6 separate regions of the Homo sapiens genome follow, and regions 1, 2, 4, 5 and 6 are each linked to region 3. Evidence: fine-mapped expression QTL. A gene starts in region 3. Each other region holds a variant in brackets. All regions are shown on one strand. Distances are between the middles of the regions. Region 1 overlaps SUCLG2 (succinate-CoA ligase GDP-forming subunit beta). Region 2 has its middle 130 kb from the start of MIR4272. Region 3 holds the start of SUCLG2 (succinate-CoA ligase GDP-forming subunit beta). Region 4 overlaps SUCLG2 (succinate-CoA ligase GDP-forming subunit beta). Region 5 overlaps SUCLG2 (succinate-CoA ligase GDP-forming subunit beta). Region 6 overlaps SUCLG2 (succinate-CoA ligase GDP-forming subunit beta).

Region 1 (4,002 bases), 110 kb after region 3:
AGAGTGGCTTCATTAGGTTTGACAGAATCTCTCCCTGGCTTCATGGATCCCCCTTGCTGTAGCATCTCCTTTGAACTCCAAGGGCCTTCAGAGGAGAGGTGGCATCTGCTTTGTTAGACTTGGTAGCATTCCCAAGTCAGTGTTAATTTAGTTGATTCGTGAAAATTGTTCCCTTTGCATAAGGCTAGGACATCTTCTTTTCTGGAGTTATTCTGTTTTTAGCTTTTTGGACAGGTATCCTGGGAAATTCTTCTAGGGTAGCAAGATCTGCCCCCTCCCCACAGTCAAATCATGTTTATGCATTATGACAGACTGTTCCACCTCCTGCTGGGAGGCAATGAGAAAGGGTCAGGAACCTGGAAGAGGCTGCAGCTGGATTTAAGGGCACCAGTGCTTGAGGACGAAGGAGAGTATTTCAGGTAATTCTATAGATGTATTGTTTACTTCTGGATGTCCATGTTGCTGAAAACTAAAGTAGAAAATAGAGTAAAACACTATGTGTTCAGGGAGTATCTTAGTTCATTCTGGCTGCCGTAAGGAAATACCAGAGACTGGGTGGCCTATAAACAACAGAAATTTGTTTCTCATAGCTTTAGGGGCTGGGAAGTCTAAGACCAAGGCTGATGCAGTGTCTGAGGCGAGCCTGCTTTCTCCTTAACACATATTGCCTTCTAGCTGTGTCCTCACGTGGTAGAAGGGATGAGGGAACTCTCTGGGGTCCCATTTAGAAGGGCACTAATCCCATGCAGGAGGTCTCTGCCCCCACCTCCCAGTACTATCACCTGGGGGTTAGGATATCAACTTATGAATTTTGGGGTACAAGAGACCCAAACATTCAGACCATAGCAGAGAATGTGGGGGTATAGAAAAAACATTAGCCATATTAGCAAGCTGTGTGTGGATAGGAGGAATAGACTTATATGCTAGCTTTCCAGCTGTGATGATGCAATATGAATCTTTTTTGTTTGTTTATTTTTTGGGATGGAGTCTCACTCTGTAACCCAGGCTGGAGTGCAGTGGTACAATCTCAGCTCGCTGCAACCTCTGCCTCCCCGGTTCCAGCAATTCTCCTGCCTCAGCCTCCCAAGTAGCTGGGATTACAGGCACCTGCCACCATGCTCAGCTAATTTTGTTTGTTTGTTTTGAGACAGAGTCTTACTCTGTGGCCCAGGCTGGAGTGCAGTGGCACAATCTCGGCTCGCTGCAACCTCCACCTCCCCGGTTCCAGCTATTCTTCTGCCTCAGTCTCCCGAGTAGCTGGGATTATAGGCGTGTGCTACCACGCCCGGCTAATTTTTGTATTTTTAGTAGAGACGGGGTTTCACCATGTTGGCCAGGCTGGTCTCGAACTCCTGGCCTCAAGTGATCCACCTGCCTTGGCCTCCCAAAGTGCTGGGATTACAGGTGTGAGCCACCCTGCCCGGCCTGAAATATGAATCATTAGTGCAAATTTCTTGTAATGATTGGAATTTCAAAGGGTATCCTCCTGTAGGACTGCTTGGTTCATATGAAACAGGACTTGATTTCTGTGCCACACTAATACCATTGGAGAACTACTTAAAAGCTGCCAAATTTTATTTCAGTTTTACCAGATATGGATGCTAGCTCTTAAGTATTTTCCTGTGCTGTCTTGGGTGGTATAATTCCAAACTCAAGTCAAAAAATTTTGTATTCTTTTACTCCAAGAAGTAAAATTTATACCAGCTTGTTAATTCCCTCATTTCCCATTTATAACACTTGGCCTGACTTCCCCCAGTATGAATTCTAGCTCAAGCCAGGCATTGAAAAATAAGATGCAGAAAGTGCCAGAAGAGATTTGAATGCTCACATATAATCAGAAATGTCGTTTTGAAAACAGTCCAAGAAAGTAGGTTCAGGTTTTATGGCTTCTGTGGTTAGGTGTAGCACATTGATAATGAGTGTTCCAATTCACAGGGATTTAAGTGGATACATTCTTATTTGGGAGTGGTTCTGTGGGAGAGTGTAATGGAGGGTAGAATTTGAAGTAAATGTGGATCTCTCTGGCTGCTGGAACTGAAATTAGTTATCTGAGATATAGTCAAACATGCAAATTAAATAACTTGGAAGTATTGCAGGGAAGCAGGTGGGAAAAGGAAGAATGAAAAGGAGAGAGGAAAGGAGGGAGGAGGGAGAAAGGAAGAAAGCATGAGGCAGGGAAGGAGAGAAGGAGGAAA[C/T]CAAAGAAAGTGGCATAAAGAGAAAAGGAAATAGCTATTTCTCAGGCCTTCACAACCCTTGAAAGCCAAATATAAACTCTTCCAAGTTCATTGATACTGCTCAGTTTCATCCTCCAGGATGTAATCTAAAGTCCCCTCTGTGTTTAACATTCGAGCAATAGACTTAGATTTCAAAAACAATGAATGCATCAAGACAGGCAATAAAAGAGCAAGACATTGCAATTTAAAACTCAGTGCAATTTGAAAGCAGCATAACAGTTATGCTGGACCTCAGTAGATGTGTGTATCATGGGAAAGTGGTTCTGAGATCTTTCATCTCTCTTGGGGTAGGTCATTCCTGGCTTCTGCTTAACTCCAGCATGTCATTGACCACTTTACAAACTTTAAAATTGAAGACAAATGCCTCCTGGATTCCTTTTTATGGCAACAACATCAAGCTGTTGTCTGGAATTCTGTATCTCTAGCATTTGGAATTATAGCAGATTTAAAGTATGGAATATGTGTTTCTTTGCAGGATGGGAGGAGGGGAGCGTATACTTTATTATTGTTGCTACTAAATAATGCTTAGTATGAATCTCACTGACCCCTTGAGGAACTTTTATAGGAGAGTTAGCTTACCTGGCTGGGGGCTGTTTTATCTGAGAGTTAGCTTACCTGGTTGGGAGCTGTTTTGAGACTGGCATGATAAAATTATTAGAGCTCTTAAAAGTATTTGGGGTAAAATATCTAAATTTAACAAAGATGATCAATGTATTTTCTATTTATATGCTGTTCTTGAACATAGGGAAATAAACTTTAATCTGTAGAAGTTTTCTGAATATCTGAAATAGCAAATTTGAATGATTTATAGTGCAGGATCCTGGCATGATTTGCTGCTTTATTTGAAGTGGTGCTATAGTGATTTCTAGTTTAAACAGCAAACCATGAAAGCCAAACAGAAATAAATAGAAAAGCAAAGTAGCCTTTTTTTAGTTGTTTTTCACTCCATGTCCTTGCTCTCCAGTCCCATCTTCCTAGAAGTCTCACAGCTCTTCCTCATGACGTTGGCCAAGTACTCTTCTCTTTATAGCTGTATTGGTCCATTCTCACACTGCTTCCCTGAGACTAGTAATTTATAAAGGAAAGAGGTTTAATTGACTCACAGTTCCGCGTGGCTGGGGAGGCCTCAGGAAACTTACAATCATGGTGGAAGGCGAAGGGGAAGCAAGCACTTTCTTCACAAGCTGGGAGGAGAGAAAGAGAGTGAAGTGGGGAGTGCCACTTTTAAACCATCATATCTTGTAAGAACTTACCCACTATCATGAGAACAGCATGGAGGAAATCATCCCCATGATCCAATCACCTCCCACTAGGTCCCTCCCTTCACAACAGGGGATTACAATTTGAGATGACATTTGGGTGGGGACACAGAGCCAAACCATATCAATAGTTCTTCCGTCCTTTTTCCTTCTCAGCTTTACTTGACACCATTTCCCCTTCCTAATTTGCTTCTTAATGCTTATTATAAATTAAAAATTTTCAGTAATTTGTTTGTGTCTATTTCTTCCAGTCAATTTTAAGTTTACAAAAGGCAATGACCATGACATTTAAAAAAATTTTTTGAATTCCCATAGAATAAGTAAGTGCTCACTAATATTTTAAAAGGGCAAAACATTTTCCTGCCACTCCCAGTTTTCTTGCGTGACTCTTTAGGAGGTCATGTTATAAGGTATTCAGCCATGTGTCCTTAAGATATCTTCTAGAGGCTTCCTCAAATATAAACACCCCGACCCCATGTGGTAAAATGGTAAAGGCTGATACAGAAATG
Region 2 (4,002 bases), 300 kb after region 3:
CTCCTTTTTTCTCATTGTCCTTTTCACAAGAATTGTCATATGCCTGCTCCTACCTCAGTCATCAACAAGCAGAATGTAATTACCTTGATTCTCAGACTATTGCATTTTTAGTATCTGTGGTGTATCTTTCTCCTTTTCTCTTGCTGTTATTGTTTATTTATGCCTATTCTTAAAAAATTAGTCTTGCTACAGCCTTTTCTGTTTCTCAGAGAACCAAGCTGTGGTCACGTTCATTCGCCCCAGTGTATTATAGTTTTCTATTTTATGTATTTCTTGATTATGTTTGTTATTTTTTCTTCTGATTATTTTGAGTTACTCTTTCTAAATTCTTTGTCTAGATCTTTAAATACTTAACTCATTTATATTTAGTCTTTCTTGATATTGAATAGATCCATTTAAACTTACCTGTAAATATTTTATCTGCATCTCACTAATTTTGCAGTTTCAGCTGTCTTTTCATTGGTGTTCTATCCTAAATACTTTGTAATTCTCTCACTGTTATTTTCCTTTGGATTATGTTATTTAGGAGTGAATGTTCTAGAGTTCTAAATATATGATCTTTTATCTATCTTTTAATTTTTAATTTCTGGTTTAATTTCATTACAGTGAGATAACATAGTCGCTATGATATTGAAACTTTGAGATGTGTTGACATTTGATTATGATACAGTTAATTACTGTAAATGGCATCTTTGTACTTGAAAAGAACATAGAGGTACAAATTTTATTATAGTTCATTACATCAAACATGTTCATTCTGTTTTCAAATCTTTTCTACTATTATTAAGTTAATAAACTTAATAGAGTTGTGTTAAAAGTTCCCAGTTTCAATATGATTGTGTGTGTGTGTGTGTGTGTGTAGAGAGAGAGAGAATGCTGTTAGATGTGCATAAATTAATTATTATTATATATCTTAGGAAGTTATTTTTGTATCATTAGTAGTATTCTTCTTTAACCCTGTAATAATTTGGATTTAGGTTCTGTTTTATCTGATGTTATATTAGAACCCTAGATATTTGGGGATTACAATTTTACTGGCATATATTTTTTAGTTCCTTTCTTTTAATCTTTCTGCATTTTGTTGTAGTTTTTTAAGAAACATATAGCTGGACTCTGTGCACTTTACTCATTTAAAAAATCTATATCTTTTAAAAAATAAACTTAATTTCTTTATGTTTGTTGTGATTATTGGTTTATTTGTATTTCTTTCTACAATTTTTTGTTTCTTCTGTTTATCATTCATTTTTGTTTCTTATTGCTCCTTTTCAGTTGAAAAAGATATACACATACAAACATATGGTATTACTGGACTGTAAGCTGTTGCTGTAATGAGATAAGACTGGTGGGAACTTTGAGAGGGGTAAATACATGTTGCATCTGGGAGGAATGTAAATCATTGGGGATTCAAAGGACAGACTGTGGTTGGCAGATTCTAAGATGGCCCCTAAAATTCCCACCTTCTTGTATAATCTTCCCTGGAGTGTGGGCAGGACTGGTGCATATGATGGGACAGCACTCCAGTGCTTAGGTTACATTGTGCAGCCAAGGGGAAGGGATTTTGAAGATGCGATTTAAGTCTCTAATCAGTTAACTTAATGAAGAGGGAAGTTATCCTGGTTGGGCCTGATCTAATTATGGGAGCCCTTCAAATGAAGGTTTAGAGATCAGAAACAGGAGTCTGAGAGATTCTCCTGCTGACCTCAAAGAAACAGTCATTTTGTGAACTGCCTATAGAGGGAGTCAGGTGACAACGACGTGGAAATACCTCCTGGGAGCTGAGAGCAGCGTCTCGCCAACACTTGCAGGAATTCTGGGATTCCAGGCCTACAGCTGCAAGGACCTGAATTCAGCCAACAACCTTAGGAAGCTTGGAAGTAGATTTTTCCCTAAGAGAGCCTTCACTTGAGGACACAGCTAGGCCTACCCTTTGATTGCAGCCTGGTGAGACACTGAACAGAGAAGACCCAGCCAGCCTGTGCCCATACTCCTGACCCACAGAAACTCTGAGATAATGTATGTATTTTTATAAG[T/C]AGCTAAATTTGTGATAATTTGTTGTACAGATGTAGAAAACAAATACAGAAAGCATATATTGTATTGTTTACTTTTAGTGGCAACCCTGAATTTTTTTCACCTACCTATTTAACTATAAATATTTTAAACAAATCTATTTTTAATCATTTCTATCCTCCTACTTATCACAATTTAATTAACCAAATTGCTCCCTTTCCCCATCTTGTTTTTTTTCTCTAAACACAGTGTTGTTTAACACACACCCAAAATAGTCAATACTTCATTAAATTTGCTGACATATTTCATCAGTTTCTTTACTCATCATTATTTCTTTTCTCCCAAGTCTATGTGTTGTAATCTATTATGTTCATGGTTTTACTCATTTTTGTCTTTAAATACCTGAAACATTTATTTTAAAGCCATTGTCAGTTTCCTTTATAAAATAGATTTTTTCAGGAATAAATTCTGCTGCAGATGAATCAGTATTTAATTTACTTTTGTTTATTGTTCTTATTTTCTTTTCTCTCCTTCCCTCTTTTCCCTCCTCTTGCTCCCTCTTTCAGTTGTCTACATTCAGCAGCTGGACCCTGAGTCCTTATAATGTCACCTTGAGGTTCCTGCTCCACTGGGATATCAGTATAAATCACTGTGAGTTTTTCACAGGAATGCAAAATGTACATTCAATAAAAGTGTAGCGGTATGGGAAGGGAAATAGAAACTGAATTATGAACACGGCACTTACAGGCGCCTTAAGATGGGAGTGTGTGGAAAACAACTGCAGCCTGTAGTTGAAAAAGGAAAATGGTGCTGCCAATGGGATGGAAAAGTTTCTCCCCAGACACTGGATCCCTGTCACTCCTGATTCCAGTTGCCTCGCTTGTGTGCCTTTCCTTTGGTCCTTGTTGACACATAGAAGCCTAGCTCTTGGTAGCCACTGCCTATTTCGGAAACAGAGTCCAACAGGCCTCCATTTTCAGCTCCTTTTATGACTTTGTATTTCTGTTCAGTTTTTGGTTCCAGATAGATTTATCTTATTTTTTAGCCTCCACATATGTTATTACTTTTCTCTTTTAAGGTTCTGCCTACCCTTATTATTTGCTTAGAGGAGAGGATGTGCACCAGTGTTTGAATCTAAGGTGCCAATGTCTTGCCCAGAAGTCTCCTAGACATTTTATATACATTATCTCATTTAATCCTCCTTGCTATTCTTTGAGCTAGGCATTACAATTACCACTTTACCATGAAGAAACTGAGGCTCAATGATGTTAACCAGCTTTCCTAAGATCACACAGAGATCGAAAACCCAGAATTAGAACATAAATGTTTATGATTCCAGAGCATAAGATCCAGATTTCTGAATCTTATCAGGAAGGAGATATTGAAGACACCAATAAGAAGAGAGTGAAAAACTGATAGAAGAACATCTTGGGTCAGGCGCAGTGGCTCATGCCTGTAATCCCAGCACTATGGGAGGCCAAGGCGGGTGGATCACCTGAGATCAAGAGTTCGAGACCAGCCTGGCCAACATGGCGAAACCCCATCTCTACTAAAAATACAAAAATTAGCCAGGCGTGGTGGCATATGCCTGTAATCTCAGCTACCCAGGTGGCTGAGGCAGGAGAATCCCTGGAACCCGGGAGGCAGAGGAGGCAGAGGCTGCAGTGAGCCGAGATCGCACCACTGCACTTCAGCCTGGGTGACATAGCAAGACTCCATCTCAAAAAAAAAAAAAAAGAACAACATCTTGGAGGCTATGATGAGAAGAGTGTCCCAGCCTGGGCAACGTGGCAAAACCCCATCTTTACTAAAAATACAAAAAAATAGCTGGGTATGATGGTGAGCACCTGTGGTCCCAGCTACTCGGGAGGCTGAGGTGGGAGGATCACTTGAGTCAGGAGGTCAAGGCTGCAGTGAGCCGAGATTGCACCACTGCACTCCAGCCTGGAGGACAGAGTAAGAACCTGTCTCAAATACATAGATACATACGTACAT
Region 3 (4,002 bases):
AATCGTCTCGCTGACTTCCAGAATGAAACTGCAGACCCTCGCGGTAAAGATGGCGTGACCAGAATTTGTTCCTGCAGATGTTCAAATGTATCTGGGGTTTCTTCCTTCCGGTGGGTTCGTGGTCTCGCTGACTTCAGGAGTGAAGCCGCAGACTTCACAGTGAGTGTTACAGCTCTTAAAGGTGGCCCGTCCGGAGTTGTTTGTTCCTGCCTGTGGGTTCGTGGTCTCGCTGACTTCACGAATGAAGCTGCAGACCTTTGCAGTGAGTGTTACAGCCCTCGAAGGTGGGGCATACGGAGTTGTTCATTCCTCCCAGTGGGTTCGCAGTCTCCCTGACCTCAGGAGTGAAACTGCAAACCTTTGTGGTGAGTGTTATAGCTCATAAGGATAGTGCGGACCCAAACAGTGAACAGCAGCAAGAGCTACTGCAAAAAGCAAAAGCACAAAGCAACCACAACCTGGAAGGAGACCCCAACTAGGGGCCACTACTGGCGCCGGTGTCCAGCTTTTATTCCCTTATTTGGCCCCACCCTCATCCTGCTGATTGGTCCATTTTACAGAGTGCCAATTGGTCCATTTTACAGAGTGCTGATTGGTCCCTTTTTAAAGAGTGCTGATTGGTGCATTTACAAACGTTTAGCTAGACACAGAGCGCTGATTGGTGCGTTTTTACAGAGTGCCGATTGGTGTGTTTACAAACCTTTAGCCAGACACAGAGCACTGATTGGTGCATTTACAATCCTTTAGCTAACAGAAAAGTTCTCCAAGTCCCCACCTGATTAGCTAGACACAGAGGGCTGGCTGGTGTATTTACAAACCTTTAGCTAGACACAGAGCGCTGATTGGTGCATTTACAATCATTTAGCTAGACAGAGAAGTTCTCCAAGTCCCCAACCGACCCACCCGGCTTCATCTCTCAGCTTTACATTGATTTTAGGTTAAGGATAGAACAAAACAAAACACCCACAACTCCTTAAGGGATGGAGAGCCTCCAATGGCCTCTCCTTGACTCACCTGAAGCCCTGGGCTGCAGGAACCTCACCTGTCTCTATTCGTTAAAGTCTCAGCTCAAACACCACTGTCCCAGATAGGCCTCGTGACCGCAGGACTAGACCACGGTTCTCTGCGGAGGGCGTCAGCTCCGTGAGCCACCCTTCCAGCACCCACTGCCATGGCGAATATTTGCTTGTTTGGCCATCCAGGGACTGTTTGAGCCCCAAGACCGCAGGGCTCGGGGTCTGTCTTTGCTCAGGACGATAACCTGGGGACTGGACAGTAGGCCCTCAGGCCTTGGGACCGCTCAAAGTGAACCGGGGCCGGGTGGGGGACCCAGGGCTCTGCAGCCTTAAGAACGCCTGTGCCCCCGGGACGCAGGGGTCAGGCCCGGCCCGGCCCAGACCGCCTCTGCCTCCTCCTCCTTTTCCTCCCCGCGCCCGCTTCTCCTCTGACCCCTCCTCCCGCTGCTCCTCCTCCGCCTCCTTCCCCTGCCCGCGCCCGCCCTACTGCCCCGTGCCGAGTTTCCTGTTTAAGATGGCGTCCCCCGTAGCAGCGCAGGCCGGGAAGCTTCTGCGAGCCCTAGCGCTGCGGCCCCGCTTCCTGGCGGCCGGGTCCCAGGTGAGCGTGGGGGCAGGAGCTGCGGGCGCCAGCAGCGGCGCCGGCCTGCCCGGGCTTCCCTCGCCCCCTGCTACTCTTGGTCTCCGCCTGACCCCCTGCGCGGCCCCTCGGGCGCCCCACTTCGGGAGGTGACGCGGCGCCGGGTCCAGGCGCAGCAGGGAACCCCGCTCCAGTGTGGGGCAGGGGCGGCGCGGCGGCAGCCCCGGGTGCCTCGGGGTATGAGCGACCCAACGCACTAGAGTCTCCGCTGTCTGCCCGCGCAGACTCATGGCGAAGGCGCTGAAGCAGGCGCTGGACGCAAGTTTAAGAAAAGTTTCTTGGACCGGGTTTTGGAGCCCTGAGGTTTTATTGTCAGCTCTACTAATTCTGCTTTTCAAACTTCTGGCACTAACCCTGAGCACGTTTAGACCACGTGATAAACATGCCTGGAAACCCGTTTCAGCCCAACTAGGAACTCACCCCCTAGGGTGAACTTCCTGCAGGCTACCTGCTTTTGCAGACTTTTAATGTGCCTGAGTTGGTCAAATCCGTGGGTCAAGGAGAAAAATGGGAAACGATCTTTCTCCTCTTTCCAATGAAAAATCAGGGCTGTCACTAAAACGCATTAGACCATTGACCCTGTCCATGTCCTCCTTGTTGATGGAGAATGAAATCAAAGAGGGTCAGTGGTGGGCTGGATAGCGATTGGAACTTGGCCTCTAGCAGATTTTTACCTTCTGCAGATGGCAAGCGTTAAAATAGTCAGAAGGACTTCAGGAAAGTTTTGAGTTGGTGATGACTCTTGTAGAAATCACTCAACCACTGAACTGGTTAGTCTCCGTAGACTATCTCTCTTCCCTTTTAAAGAAAGCACAGTCTGGGATTCAGCCACAGCAGAGTTAATGACCTTGCCTATTTCCCCATTTTTAATTGATGAGAGGCAAATTATCACTCATACAATTTTAACCAGGATGTGCATAGTATAGTTTTTTAGAAAATTTAAAAAATAGTGATTAATGATTTTTTGAGTTCCTCTAAACTTTGGTTATGACATCTGTGAGCTATTTTTACCCCTCTCCTTTCATTTCCTGCCTCCCCATTTCTCTGTTATTGTTAATGTAAATTTAAAAGGTGCTAATACTTACTACTGTAATATTCTTAATAGGTGCTTGACAGTATAGTGAGGTAGCAAAAGGAATGGCAGTTTTGTCTAATTAAAACTCACTAATAACTGTTGTAATAGAGTAAGGAGAATAGCTCTAGGAGATGAAGTCCTATTCATTATTTAAGTGTTAGAAAAAACAAGAACTAGGGTGCTTACCATGAGTGTAGACTTGAATTGATGAGAAACATGGGGCCCAGGGCAGTGAAAACTCATGAATTGTACAGAGAAACTGAAAATGCAGAGTGTTTAGCTGAAATATGTGAAGCCTACTTCCCTAACCAAGAAATAAGAGGCTGAACGCAACACAGGAGAAAATCTGGTTGGGGAGAGATACTCTTGGTTTGTCAAGAAAACTGGGTAAAAAGATCTGTTAGCACGCCCCATCTGGTTACTGTGATTTACATATTTGTGGATGATGTGTTTTTCTGTAAATTCTTAGAAGGTAAAAGTAGGTTTTTTTAAAGATAGAAAGGTACACAGTGTCCAAGAACTGGAAATGGACATTAGCAATCATTTAGTCCAGCCAGCTCATTTCATGGGTAGAGAAATTGAGGCCTAAAGAAGTTCAATGACATATTCAACGATACAGTGAGAGTTTGTGGCATTCCAGAGTAAAGGCTTACCTTTACGTTTCCGTTACACCATGCTGTTTCCTGGTGAGTATATACTTCCTCATGAAAATATATTATATCAACATGCAAATTAATCTGCATGCCAGTAGTAACTATATAACATCCAAGTCATTAGCACCACTGACACATTTTTATTTTTTTCTTTATGACCATCTTAGAATTGTCCATAAAAATGGTGAGTATTGCTATTTTCAAATTCTTGGGTGCTTCCTATGATCTGTTTCATGTACACTGATTTGATATTACGTTTCCATAGTCCCTTGCCCGTGGCAGACATTGCAGTTAAACATGGCCCACTTCTCTCATCATACTTAAGAATCCTCACCAAGTGTCTCAGAAATCTGTTGCCACTCTTGGCCCAGACCTATTTTATACCACCAGGCCTTGTGAAAAACTGTTGTCTGTACAGAAATAAAAGACCCAGTTTCTGCTTAGAGAAATAACTTTAACTGGTCTCTCAAAGATACCCATAGAATGACATTTTGTCTACCTCCTCCCTATGGTTAAATTTAACATTTGACACATATTCCTGATGCTTAGTGTCATTGAAGTTTTTTTTTTTTTTTCACCTTTGCTGTTAGCTTTACTGTTTTGACTTTTGATTGATAGTAC
Region 4 (4,002 bases), 200 kb after region 3:
GACCCAATTAATTTTTTATTTGATTGGTAATAAAGGAAGAGAGTCCTATGCAGTATAATTTAAGATATTCATGTATCAAGGGAGGAGGAAGGCCAGGCTGAATCCCGGAAGTCCCACCTCACTACCCAGACAGCAATCACATGATTCCAGGTTGAAAGGGATGCTGAAAAATATTATAAAATTGACATTCTGTTGAGATACTGCCACTAATGAAAGAAGAATTAACACTTGGTATCCCAATAGTCTCTGCCTTATACTGATCAATATCATGGGAGTGAATCACCCCTGATTGAGGTCTTACTACTTCCAGTGGTAGAATTAAATATAATAACAGTGGTAATAATACGTTAAATTTGAAGAGCCTTGGGCACAACAGTGCCCCTTACCCCACATATCCTTAGGGCAGGGTGATGGAGGTAAAGACCTGGAATATTGTGGTGTTCTTGCCGGGATTGAAACACTGGGTAGTAGAACAAAATGGAAAGGCCTACCCTTTCAGATACCCATATTTGAAAATCTTTATTCCTCATGCTTTTTCACTTTCTCTGCCATATTCCCTAAGAAGATCTTTGTCCCATCAGTGTTTTTTTTTTCCTCCACCCAGTACCTAGAGCACAGTACAGTGAATTTTGATTATAGTGTTTGTGCTAACATTGAGAATTACAAAATTGAAATTGTTTAAGTTAGAAAGTTAATTTCTGCATTCTCTCCCCATCAAAACTATTTTACATTGCCAGTATATATCACTTTCAAGCATTCCATTTTTAGGAGCAGGAAGAAATTTAAAATCTCCTCTTTTCCTCCAGTCTGATTCTGGAAAGTAGGCTCCCTTTTTAGTCATGGGATTTAAACTGAGTTGGTTAGGCAAACATGAAAGATGCTTATGGTGATTTATGCCCCACATCACAAGTGTATGTCAAGAGTGAAATAACGCCTGATGTGCAGGAGGATGGACCAGAAGACCCTCACTTACTCAAAGTGTGAGGAGGATGGGCCAGAGGCATCTACAATGTCCTTTTTGCCTTAATCCACAAAGCTCAGTTTCAAGTTATGGATTTGAAAATACTTGCTACAATTCAGGGACAAATGGACTAAAATATATATAGAAATAGAAAACTTGAAATAAGTAAATCTAAAACACTGAATATGTGAAATAGACCCTAAGAACTACATGCAATGTGTGAACTTTGAATGGATACTGCTTTGGGTATGTGTGTCTATAAAACATTCTTGGGATAACTGGGAATATTTCACTGCAGGCTGCATATTAGATGACAATAGGGGAATTGTTCATTTTCTTTTTTTTTTTTTTTTTTTTGAGACGGAGTCTCACTCTGTCGCCCAGGCTGGAGTGCAGTGGCGCCATCTCTGCTCACTACAAGCTCCACCTCCCAGGTTCACGCCATTCTCCTGCCTCAGTCTCTCAAGTAGCTGCGACTATAGGTGCCCACTACCATGCCCGGCTAATTTTTTGTATTTTTAGTAGAGATGGGGTTTCACTTTGTTAGCCAGGATGGTCTCGATCTCCTGACCTTGTGATCCACCCGCCTTGGCCTCCCAAAGTGTTGGGATTACAGGCATGAGCCACCACGCCCGGCCCATTTTCTTACATGTTGTAGTGTGATTAGGACAATGTTCCTATTTTTAGGAGATGCATTTGGGAGTGAAGTGTCATGATGTAGGCCACTCAGTATGAAATGCTTCAACAACTATCCATCTATCTATATATGTATAGCTACATATATCTCTATAGAGATAGATATAGAGAGGAAGAGAGGGAGAAAG[C/T]AAATATGGCAAATCGTTAAATACTACTAAAGGTAGGTAGAGGATACATGGGTAGGCTGTATAATTATTTCACCTTCTATTTTTTTTTTATATATTTGATGTTTTTCTTAGTTTGAAAGGTAAAAAAGTATTGCCTTGTAACCACCAGTGCGACCACAACCCTATCCTTTACTCTGTTCCTGGATCTCAAACCAATTTTTCATATTATTTATTCAACAATTACTCTATATACCAGCTACTGTTCCAAATCCTGGAGATATATAAATGGGTAAGATGTCGTCCCTCGTCCCTGTACTTAAAGAGCTCATGATTTAGAATGTTTCTTTTGCAATTTTTGTGCAGCTCTGTCAACTTCTTATCCAACATTGGGAATGAACATAAAAATTTACATCCACTTAGGCCTAAGAATATTTTAAGCAATTTATATTGATATAAGGCTGTCATCAGTCAGCCTATTAACTTCTAATTTTCTTGAAAAGTTTTATGTAAGAACAATAGGCAGTAATGGAATATTTAAGCCATTTGCACACACATACACACACACAAAATGCACGACAACGACAACCTTGGGGGTTTGCCCAAGTACATCGTGGCATTCTGGTTATATCTAGATATATTTCTGGCATACACAGCTAGAATTATGTTTCAACTGGATGGTCACATTTGTAACTGATACACATGTGACCAGTGAACACAGTAGTTTTCAAGAGGCATTGCCTTCTTGGGAGCCAAAGGCTTGATGTGGCCCCTCTATTAAGGAATATCAAGAGTTTCCCACTACTTGAAAATAACTGCATTGGAAGATTGTTTTCTTACTTCCTGATTTGTAGCCTGGTAACCAGTAAGGCAATACATATATATATTCATGCTAAATAATTTTGTTGTGTTCTGAATGTTTGTGCCCCTCTCCCCACCATTCGTAAGTTGAAATCCTAACCCTCAAGGTGATGATATTAGGAAGTGGGGCCTTTAGCAGTTGATTAGCTCATGAGGGTGGGCTCTCATGAATGTGATTAGTGTCCTTATGAAATAGGCCCAAGGGAGCTCCTTCATTCCTTCTGCCATGTGAGGACACAGCAAGAAGGTGGCACCACCTGTAATCCAGGAAACAGGCCCTCACCAGACATCAAATCTGTTGGTGCCTGGATTGTGATCTTTCAGACTCCAGAACTGTGAGAAATAAATTTCTGTTGTTTATAAACTATCCAGTTAATGGTGTTTTGTTTTAGACTATCAATAAGAATTAAAAGAAAATACTCATAAAAAAAAAAGAAGTCTGAATGTACTGAGGTAATTTTCTTCATATTATTCCTGTGAAAAGGAAAATGCTCATATAACTCAAAAATCATAATATTTGATATTCAGTGTTGTAGTCCTTGCTAATCAGCTGCAGGGTAAAGAAGAGAAATATGCTGAAGATGTTGGGCACGCAAAAGAGATGCATTTCAGGGTTATAATTAAAGAACTTAAAGGAGTTCAGAAAGAGAATGGGAAGGTCTACTTTAGACCTTCATCTATGATTACATTGAAAAGAAAATAATACCAGAGGCTCCTTTAAAACGTGCGAGATTATGCAGTTTCAAAAGGCAGTGCAATGGCTAGAAGATTCTTATATGTGTTACCAAGATCTGCAAAATTAAAATGGTATTCATGACTTGTAAACAAAGCTACTAATTGAACTATAATTTAGAAATGCGGTCCTGAATACAATTTCAGTCACAGAATGACAATTAGAGGAATTTATTAGATGTTATCTCTGATGCAGGGGAGTGTCTTGGGTTGGATTTAGTAATCTACTTGCTAGATGCTCAATAAATATTTGAGAGGGAAGGGCGGAAAGGAGGAAGAGTGGGAAGGGAGGAAGAGCTAAACTGGATGTGGATTGTTTAGTAAATTTGACAAGGAATTTGTGGTAACTTGAGCTACTAACTGAAACTTACCTGTTTTCTACATATTAGAAAGGGTTTAATAAAGAAACTAATAGAAGTAAAAGTATTCTTAGTCTGTTAAAAGTATTAATCATTACTGGCTCATTAAGCACCTCAAAAGCACTCATTCACATAAAATCAATGCACTAATTACAAACCAGTCTCGTCTTTGTAAAAGCAGGCCCAAATTTTTAGAAAATATTTCAATAGGCATAATTCATGGCCACACATGGAAAATACTTGAAACTTACAACCTTTAAAAATATTATGATAACTTATGCTTTTTATT
Region 5 (4,002 bases), 34 kb after region 3:
TCATTCATTGGAACCATTTTACAGTATTCCATTGGATAGGCCAATCTTATTAATCCTTAGCTTTAATGTCTTTGGTTTTTGTTATTTCTATGTAGCATCTCTGTAATCAAGGGAGGCCTTGTGTTCTCTCCTAGGAGAGAATCTCAGATGGGCCACTGTAGCAGATAGAGGTACTGTAGCCTGTTGCCCGCTGAGATTGATATTAAATAATGGAAGAAAGTTATAAGATCAAAGGCCCAGCAGCTCTGATGTGGTGGAATGATGTGCAGAAATGTCAATAATTAAATGTAATACATAGGCCATGTCTTAGTTCATTTTCTGTTGCTTATAAGAGACAGCCTGAAACTAGGTCATTTATAAAGAAAAGGAATTTATTTCTTATAGTTATGGAGCCTGAGGAGTCCAAGGTCAAAGGGCTGTATCTGGTGAGGGCCTTCTTGCTGATGAGACCTCTTCTGCATAGTCCCCAAGGGATGCATGGTGAAGGGGCTGAGAGTACTAGCTCTCATCTCTCTTCTTTTTCTTAGAAAGCCACCGATTTCACTCCCATGATAATCCATTAACCCATTAATCCATTCATCCTTGAATGGATTGGTCCATTCATGAGGGCAAAGCTCTCAGAACCCAATTACCTGTTATAGATCCCACCTCTCAATACTGCCACATTGGAGATTAAGTGCCATATGACTTTTGGAGGGAAGAAACATTCAAACTATAAGGCCAGTTTGGGCAAAAGATTTGAGGTTAAGATTGTTTTTAAAGAAGTGCCTTTTTTATGACTAGCAGGTACATCAGATTTACCACATGCATATCAACTAACATTGTAAAGTGTGTGTGTGTCTAATACTAGATTTCTTTTTTTTTTCCTTAAACCCACATCTAATCCACAAGTAAGCTTTACCTCATCACCAAACTTTATCCAGAATCCCCTCATTTCTTTCTGTCCCCACCTCTACTGCCCTTCTCTATAGTCTAGTTGAGAGATCAGCACACTGGCCTGCTAGCCAAATAAAGCTTTATTGGAACACAGCCATGCCTATTAATTTATTTATGATTGATGGCTAGTTTGCACTACAAAGGCAGAGTTGAGTAGTTGCAACAGAGTCCACCTGGCCTCAAAGCCTATAATATTTACTATCTGGCTCTTTATAGAAAAAGTTTGCTAACCTTAATCTGGTTTAATGCAGCTCTCTCCCAATTGGTTTTATTCTCCAAACAGAAAACAGTGGCTTTTCTAAAACGTGAATTTGATCTTCTCACTTCCCTGTTTAAAACTGAGTGAATGAAGTCTAAACTCTGTATTTGCCTTACCAGCACCTGCATTATCTGGTCCCTGCTGGCATTTTCATGCTCCTCTGTCACCATACTCCCTTGTTCGTGCACGTGCCAACCCCTTTCCTACCCCAGAGCCTTGGAACATGCTGGCCTCTCAGCCTGCTGTGCTTTGCCTCAGTTCCTTCACAGGTATACCTCTTTTCTGTCTCCAGATTTCTGCACAGATGTCATTTCTTTAAAGGTGACCACTCAGTCTAAAATTGGCCTGCACAGCTCATCATGTGTCTTTCTTTTCTTTTTCTTTTTTCTTTCTTTTTTTTTTTTTTTTTTTGAGATGGAGTCTCACTGTGTCACCCAGGCTGGAGTCCAATGGTGCATTCTCGTTTCACTGCAACCTCTGCCTCCTGCGTTCAAGCTGTTCTCCTGTCTCAGCCTCCTGAGTACCTGGGATTAAAGGTGCGTGCCACCACGCCCAGCTAATTTTTGTATTTTTAGTAGAGACAA[G/A]GTTTCACCATGTGGGCCATGCTGGTCTTGAACTCCTGACCTCAGGTGATCCATCTGCCTTGGCTTCCGAAAGTGCTGGGGTTAACGGGTGTGAGCCACTGCACCCGGCCTCATCATGTGTGTCTTTCTTTTCCCTCATAGCATTTGCTGCTCTGTAATTACACTCTTCATTAATGTGTTCATGTCTTTCTTCCCTGCCTCTCCTCCTAGGGCAAAAGCTTGCTGACCACAAAGAACTTGTCTGTGCTGATTACTGCTAGATCTTGGATGTCAAACACAGTGACCACATTATGGATGCAGTGGAAAATTGTTAAATGAATGAACAAAGTATAGGTCTGCCAGTTTCCTTGGTAGGAGTTAAATGCCAGTATATGTTTATATTACCTTAATTTGTTTTCTTTATCTATAAATAAATCTTGCCTACTTCTGTTTGCAGGGTAAAATTAAGGTGATTTTCTTCTACAACATGATTGAGCTAGCATACTCTCCAGGAGGGAACAGACAGGCATTCTGAAAGGATGTTTGGTATTTTTAGAGCCTTTTATACATTTGTTTCTGCTGTTGTGCTAATATGCTAATGTTTATCAAGGTTGTATTTTTTTCCCTCCCTTTTCTTTCTTGCTGCTGGCAGAGCAGCATTATAGAGTTATGCAGCAAACTCTCCTTTGGGCATTTGTCATTACTACAAAGTGTTTTACATTTCTTTGCTCCTTAAAATATATGCTGCTTTTCTGCTGAACCTAGGATAAAAAGAACAAGGCAGTATCTTTGCGAATCTTAATTCTTTCGAGTTAGGGAAACCGATCCAGCAACCTCTCTTTCACACCTTCCCATTTTCCCAGTGAACCTCATATTCGGTACAGCTCTGTACCTTCCTGCAGTGAAATCTATAAACCAGAGCCTCCTGCTTCTTTTGCCCCAGTTGACTTCAAGGCTCAGGGCCCATGGTTGTGCACTGGGAGATAATACACCAGCACTGCCTAGTTAAAGGGCACAGGCTCCTCAGTCAGACATACCTGTATTTGAAATATGGCTTTGCCTCCAACCAGCTGTGTCACCCTGAGCAGGCACTTAGTTACTCTGAACCTTCTTTTGCTTATCTGTAAAATGAGCTTCTGCTGGTATCTTCCTTTAATTGGAGAATCTCACGAGGTAATGCTTTCCAAGTGGAATAACACAGTTTCTGGAATTTCATGGGACTCAGAAATGTTCACTAGTATTTGATTTGGATCAGCAACGTAAGACTTTGCCAAGGCACCCCAAGAAGAATGAATTCTAAAATAGCAACCTGCTGTGATCCAGTTTCTGGATAATCTGAAAGCTCAACTGTCAATTCTTTTTTGGAAGTACAGATGATTTTATTATTATTATTTTAAACTGATGCTGCTTGCTTTACTGCTAGAGGCCTTAGATAAGACATGTGGCACTATCAGAGATGCGTTGTCAATGGAACAAAAATGGTCTCGGACGCTGGTCTGATCCTAGTCTGATGTCCTGTGAAGAATAACTCAAGTGTTGTTTCTCTTGATGCGGGAACTTTAAAGTACTTTTCTTCTCTAGCTATCCACTCTAATTAAGTTTTACATCCCTTCAACGCTGGCTTTTCAGGTACCATATCGTCATTATTATTATTACCAATTTGTCAGCTGCTTTATTTGTTCATACTTTAAAATGGAAAACAGTAATTTTAGGTCAGGAATGGCAGTATAGTTTTTGTCTGTGGTGGTTCCAAGTAGTTTTTAATTGACACAGGATTTACAGACTGACTAAAAAGAGAAAAAGTCAGATGTGATAATAGAAAGCTCATGGGTTTTTTTTAGGCAGGGGGACCTGGATTCAAATCGTGACTCTCTCTTAATCAGCTGAGTGGCCTTAGACAAGCTACTTAACCAACCTGTCTCACCTTCAGACTTCTTCTGTGAGATGGGGATAACCTAGTTCAAATGAGATGAAAAGTAAATTTACTTATAGTAAGTAGCACATTTTTTCTTTTTGAGACAGAGTTTTGTTCTGTTGCCAGGCTGGAGTGCAATGGCGAGATCTCGGCTCACTGCAACCTCCGCCTCTGGGGTTCAAGCAATTTTCCTGTCCCCGCCTCCCTGTAGCTGGGACTACAGGCACGCACCACCACACCCAGCTAATTTTTGTATTCTTAGTAGAGACGGGCTTTCACCATGTTGGCCAGGATGGTCTCAATCTCTTGACCTTGTGATCTACCCACCT
Region 6 (4,002 bases), 270 kb after region 3:
TAACCTGTTTCCACTCTCTGCTGTTTTACTTTTATTTTATTTTATTTTATTTTATTTATTTATTTATTTATTTTGAAAATAGAAGTGGGTCTCACTCTGTTGCCCAGGCTGGAGTGCAGTGGTGCAATCACAGCTCACTGCAGCCTTGACCTTCTGTGCTCAAGCGGTCCTCTGACCTCAGCCTCCTGAGTAGCTGGGACTACAGGCCACCATGCCCAGCTGGTTTCCTTTTAATCCCTCTTCTCTGCGTGTCCCCACCTCCCCTTCCAGTTGTTCCCTCAACAGGAAGGAGGAAGCAAGTGGTAGTTAACGACAAGGGCAGGGTCAGTGGGCAGTAGAGCTATGCCTTCAAGGAGAAACCAGGTTGAATGCTGCAAAGAGATGGTGCCAGCATCAGGGTAGGGGCTGGTGTGGAAGGCACTTGGCAAACTCATTTTTTTCCTTTACTTTCTCTTATTCTCTACCTGTCTTTTTTCTTATGTCTGTTCCTTTTTGAGCTATTCCCCATGACTCTGTCTCTTGTCTCTCTCTTCATTTGTCTCTCTCTCTATCTCCCTCTCTCTCTCTCTACCCCCCTTTCCCCTTCTGTAACAAGTTTCTACCTGGTCATGATGGCTCTGCATATGACCCATTTCTCATAACAGATGAGCTTCATATTTGAATATGAGAATCCCTTCAAAAACTGCTTAGTTCTGAGCATGCCTAGTATATGCTTAATAATTAAGGTGGTAATTAAAGTGTAACTGCAAGTATAATTAAAATTCACTTTTGTGGATCCTAGAATTATGAAGCAATTAGGCATTTTCACATGGCACTGAAGGAGCAGCTGGGAGGAGAGAAGGGTTGTGGTTTTCTGGGAAACTGCTCCGTCCCCTTTCTTCCCTGGCCCTGTCCACCAGTGTTAGCCTGGAGCAAGGCCTCACTTGACTGGGGCACTTGAAGCTGCTACAGGTTGGGAGAAGTGGTAACAGCTTGGAGTCCTCACTCAGGGCAGTGAGCACAGCCAGCTCTTCCTGGGCCCTTCCCAGCAAAAGGAGCCACTCCCAAAACCCCTAGGTAACTGTGAGAGGACTCCAAAAAAAAAAAAAAAATCCCTCCTGATTGCACCTTGAGCAGTTTGCGGTATCTATTTCAACCCTATAGGAAAGGGTTGTTAGGACAGCAAGGAGATCTATCAAAAAGTACCCGCCCACTCCTCTTCTCGTCAAGCACACTTTGTATGTGGGAATCCATCTGGAGTTACCCCGTCGGTCAGCACGTACTGCTAGCTAACGGATATTGGGAGGTATCCAGTAAGCAAGTCTGACAAAGGAAAGTGGATGTTTAGAGGGGACGAGGGAAGCATCAGTAAGTCATCCCAATAAGACTTCATCCATGGTAAGATTTTAGAAATACAAGGTGCTCCAGAAGTTCATTGTACCAGCCCCTGCTTTAGTTGGGGCATGGGGAGGTGGTGATTAGAAAGATATCCCCAAAGAAATACCATTTAACAGATGCCTTGTGAATGAATGGGTGTCAGCCCAGTGGAGAGAGGTGTCAGCCCAACAGAGCTCTGGGTGGAAAGCCCAGCAAGGGCAGTGGCCCAGCACATCTTTGTGCTCATGAATTTCTAAATCATTTCTTTTCCCTTGGGAATACTGGTGCTAAGTTGGGTGCAAAAGAGGATATTAATTAAGGAACTAAATTATTTAGATTACTTGGTTGCAAGGAAGCACAACTCATTAAAGTTATCTCAAAAAATTAAGAAGATCAAGAGCTCATTTCATCCATACACATGCAAAGGAACTCAGGTAAAACTGAATAAGAAGTTATCTGAATAAGTGGGAACCGTGATAAAAAACTAGTCTCCAGAAAGAGCAGGATCTGAAATGGAGGAAGACATCAGGAGCGCCACTCCTGCACCTATCTGGAGGTCTTAGAGCTGCATTGAGATTGGAAGGTGCTCAAAAGAAGAAAGGAAGAGGAAGAAGGGCCTAGTCTACGTCTCTGCAGGAGGAGATAGAAATTTACACATGGGGTACGGTGGCTCATGCTTCTAATCCCAGACTTTGGGAGGCCGAGGCAAGTGGATCACTTGAGGTCAGGAGGTTAAGATCAGCCTGGCCAACATGGTGAGACCCTATCTCTACTAAAAATACAAAAATTGGTTGGGAGAGGTGGCCACTGCCTCTCATCCCAGCTACTCAGGAGGCTGAGGCAGGAGAATTGCTTGAACCAGGGAGGTGAAGGTTGCAGTGAGCTGAGATCACGCCACTGCACTCCAGCCTGGGTGACAGAGCAAGACTCTGTCTAAAACAAAATTTACACGTGTAACTGTCATTTACCTTCTGGTCCAAAGACTGGTTTGCTCCTGTGTCCATCAGGGCTTTTGTTTCACACTCTGTCATTACTCCATGAAAGCCA[T/C]GCTTTGATTAGTTTCTAAATTCCTTAGCCTGCTATCTAACACCTGCCACAGTCAAATGAATCAAAGTGCACGCAGGTTGTGTTAATGAAATAATACATTTTTACATCTGTGTTACTTACCTATCAGCACTTAACAAATTACCCCAAAATGTAGCAGCTTAACAAAAAGAACAGTTATTATCTCACAGTTTCTGTGGTCAGGAATCTGGGTGTGGCTTAGGTGGATCCTCTCACTCAGGGTCTCTCACAAGGCTGCAATCACAGTGTCAGCCGAGCTGTAGTGATCTCAAGGCTTGACTAGGGAAGAATTTGCTTCCAAGATCCCTTATATGGTTCTTGGCCAGATGCACTTCCTCCTTGGCTATTAGACCCAGAGCCTCAGTTCCTCATCAGCCGTTGGCCAGAGTTTGCCCTCAGTTCCTTGCCCAGGTGAGTCTCTCCAGAGGGCAGCTCATAGCAGGGTAGTTTGCTTCATCAGAGTGAAAAAAGAGTTAAAGGGAGCAAGACTGAAGCCACAGGCTTTTGTAACCTAGTCTCAGAAGTGACACTCCATCACTTTTGCCATGTTCTTATCTATTAGAAGTAAGGCTGTGGGTCCAGATCATACTCAAGGGGGACGGATTCTACAAAGATGTGACTACCAGGAGGCAAGAGTGATTGATCTTTGAAAACCATTTTAGAAGCTGCCTTCCACAGCATTTACAAAGTCATATGTTAGTCAAAATAATGCTAGCTCCTGTAACAACAGAAAAATGCAGAAATTTCAGAGTCTTAACATTATAGAAGGGTCTTTCTCATTCCCATAAGGTCTAAGAGGGTGAGTGGGTAAGATGCTTGGCTCCAGAGAGTTATTAAAGTATCCAGGCTGAAGGAGTCATTGCCATCTTCAAGAAGTGATTTGGCTGGGTGCAAGGGCTCATGCCTGTAATCCCAGCATTTTGGGAGGCCACGGCAGATGGAGTCCTTGAGTTTAGGAGTTCAGGACCAGCCTGGGCAATGTGGAAAAACCCCATCTCTACAAAAAATACAAAAAATAGCTGGGCGTGGTGATGTGTGCCTTTAGTCTCAGCTACTTGGGAGGCTGAGGTAGAAGGATCACTTGGGCACCGGAGGCTGAGGCTGCAGTGAGCTGAGATCACACCACTGCACTCCATCTTGGGTGACACAGCGAGAGCCTATCTCAAAAACAAAAAGCAAGACAAAACACAACCAGAACCAAAAAGGTGACTTCCAGGGCTGCCCCAGCTAGGAACACTCCAGAAAGCAGACAAGGAAAACCGAGTGTGAAGAGTCCCTTTGGAGATTGTCATGGCCATGTGACATTCCTTTGGCCTGAACTCAGTCACATGTCCCCTTCGAGATGCAGGGGGGCCTGGGAAATGTAGTTTCTGGCTGGGCAGCTGCTTTCCAGCAATAGCACTCTACTGCAGAAGAGGAGCAGGAGTCTGTGGTGCAAAGCCAGCCAGGCCTGCCACAGATACTGCACCATTTACAAAAATGCTTTTACACTCATTTCATTTGCTTCTCATCACAATCTATACCATCAGCTATACTGTCCTCATTTTTCAAGTAGGTAAGCAGACTAGCATATCTTTAGAA

The links.
Region 1: its variant is fine-mapped to the expression of SUCLG2 in whole blood (TOPMed, PIP above 0.99).
Region 2: its variant is fine-mapped to the expression of SUCLG2 in tibial nerve (GTEx, PIP above 0.99).
Region 4: its variant is fine-mapped to the expression of SUCLG2 in whole blood (INTERVAL, PIP above 0.99).
Region 5: its variant is fine-mapped to the expression of SUCLG2 in whole blood (TOPMed, PIP above 0.99).
Region 6: its variant is fine-mapped to the expression of SUCLG2 in unexposed skin (GTEx, PIP above 0.99). The same link has a PIP of 0.9 or more in T cells, sun-exposed skin and whole blood.

The regions. Positions count from the first base shown.
Region 1 is chr3:67,543,877-67,547,878 of GRCh38, reverse strand. All of the region lies in intron 2 of SUCLG2 (succinate-CoA ligase GDP-forming subunit beta), which reads left to right. Among named protein-coding and RNA genes, the nearest start is that of SUCLG2, 110 kb to the left of the region's middle. The variant C/T (reference allele first, on the strand shown) is at 2,196.
Region 2 is chr3:67,355,760-67,359,761 of GRCh38, reverse strand. No RefSeq gene overlaps it. Among named protein-coding and RNA genes, the nearest start is that of MIR4272, 130 kb to the right of the region's middle. The variant T/C (reference allele first, on the strand shown) is at 2,031.
Region 3 is chr3:67,652,115-67,656,116 of GRCh38, reverse strand. SUCLG2 (succinate-CoA ligase GDP-forming subunit beta) reads left to right here and starts at 1,505. Exons shown (of 11, transcript NM_003848.4): 1 at 1,505-1,614. The coding sequence starts at 1,531. It overlaps SUCLG2-DT (SUCLG2 divergent transcript), which reads right to left and starts at 1,420. Exons shown (of 7, transcript NR_109992.1): 1 at 1,015-1,420. RefSeq lists an enhancer at 1,199-1,698 and a silencer at 1,214-1,893.
Region 4 is chr3:67,452,278-67,456,279 of GRCh38, reverse strand. All of the region lies in intron 9 of SUCLG2 (succinate-CoA ligase GDP-forming subunit beta), which reads left to right. Among named protein-coding and RNA genes, the nearest start is that of SUCLG2, 200 kb to the left of the region's middle. The variant C/T (reference allele first, on the strand shown) is at 1,786.
Region 5 is chr3:67,618,189-67,622,190 of GRCh38, reverse strand. All of the region lies in intron 1 of SUCLG2 (succinate-CoA ligase GDP-forming subunit beta), which reads left to right. Among named protein-coding and RNA genes, the nearest start is that of SUCLG2, 34 kb to the left of the region's middle. The variant G/A (reference allele first, on the strand shown) is at 1,780.
Region 6 is chr3:67,377,255-67,381,256 of GRCh38, reverse strand. All of the region lies in intron 10 of SUCLG2 (succinate-CoA ligase GDP-forming subunit beta), which reads left to right. Among named protein-coding and RNA genes, the nearest start is that of MIR4272, 150 kb to the right of the region's middle. The variant T/C (reference allele first, on the strand shown) is at 2,404.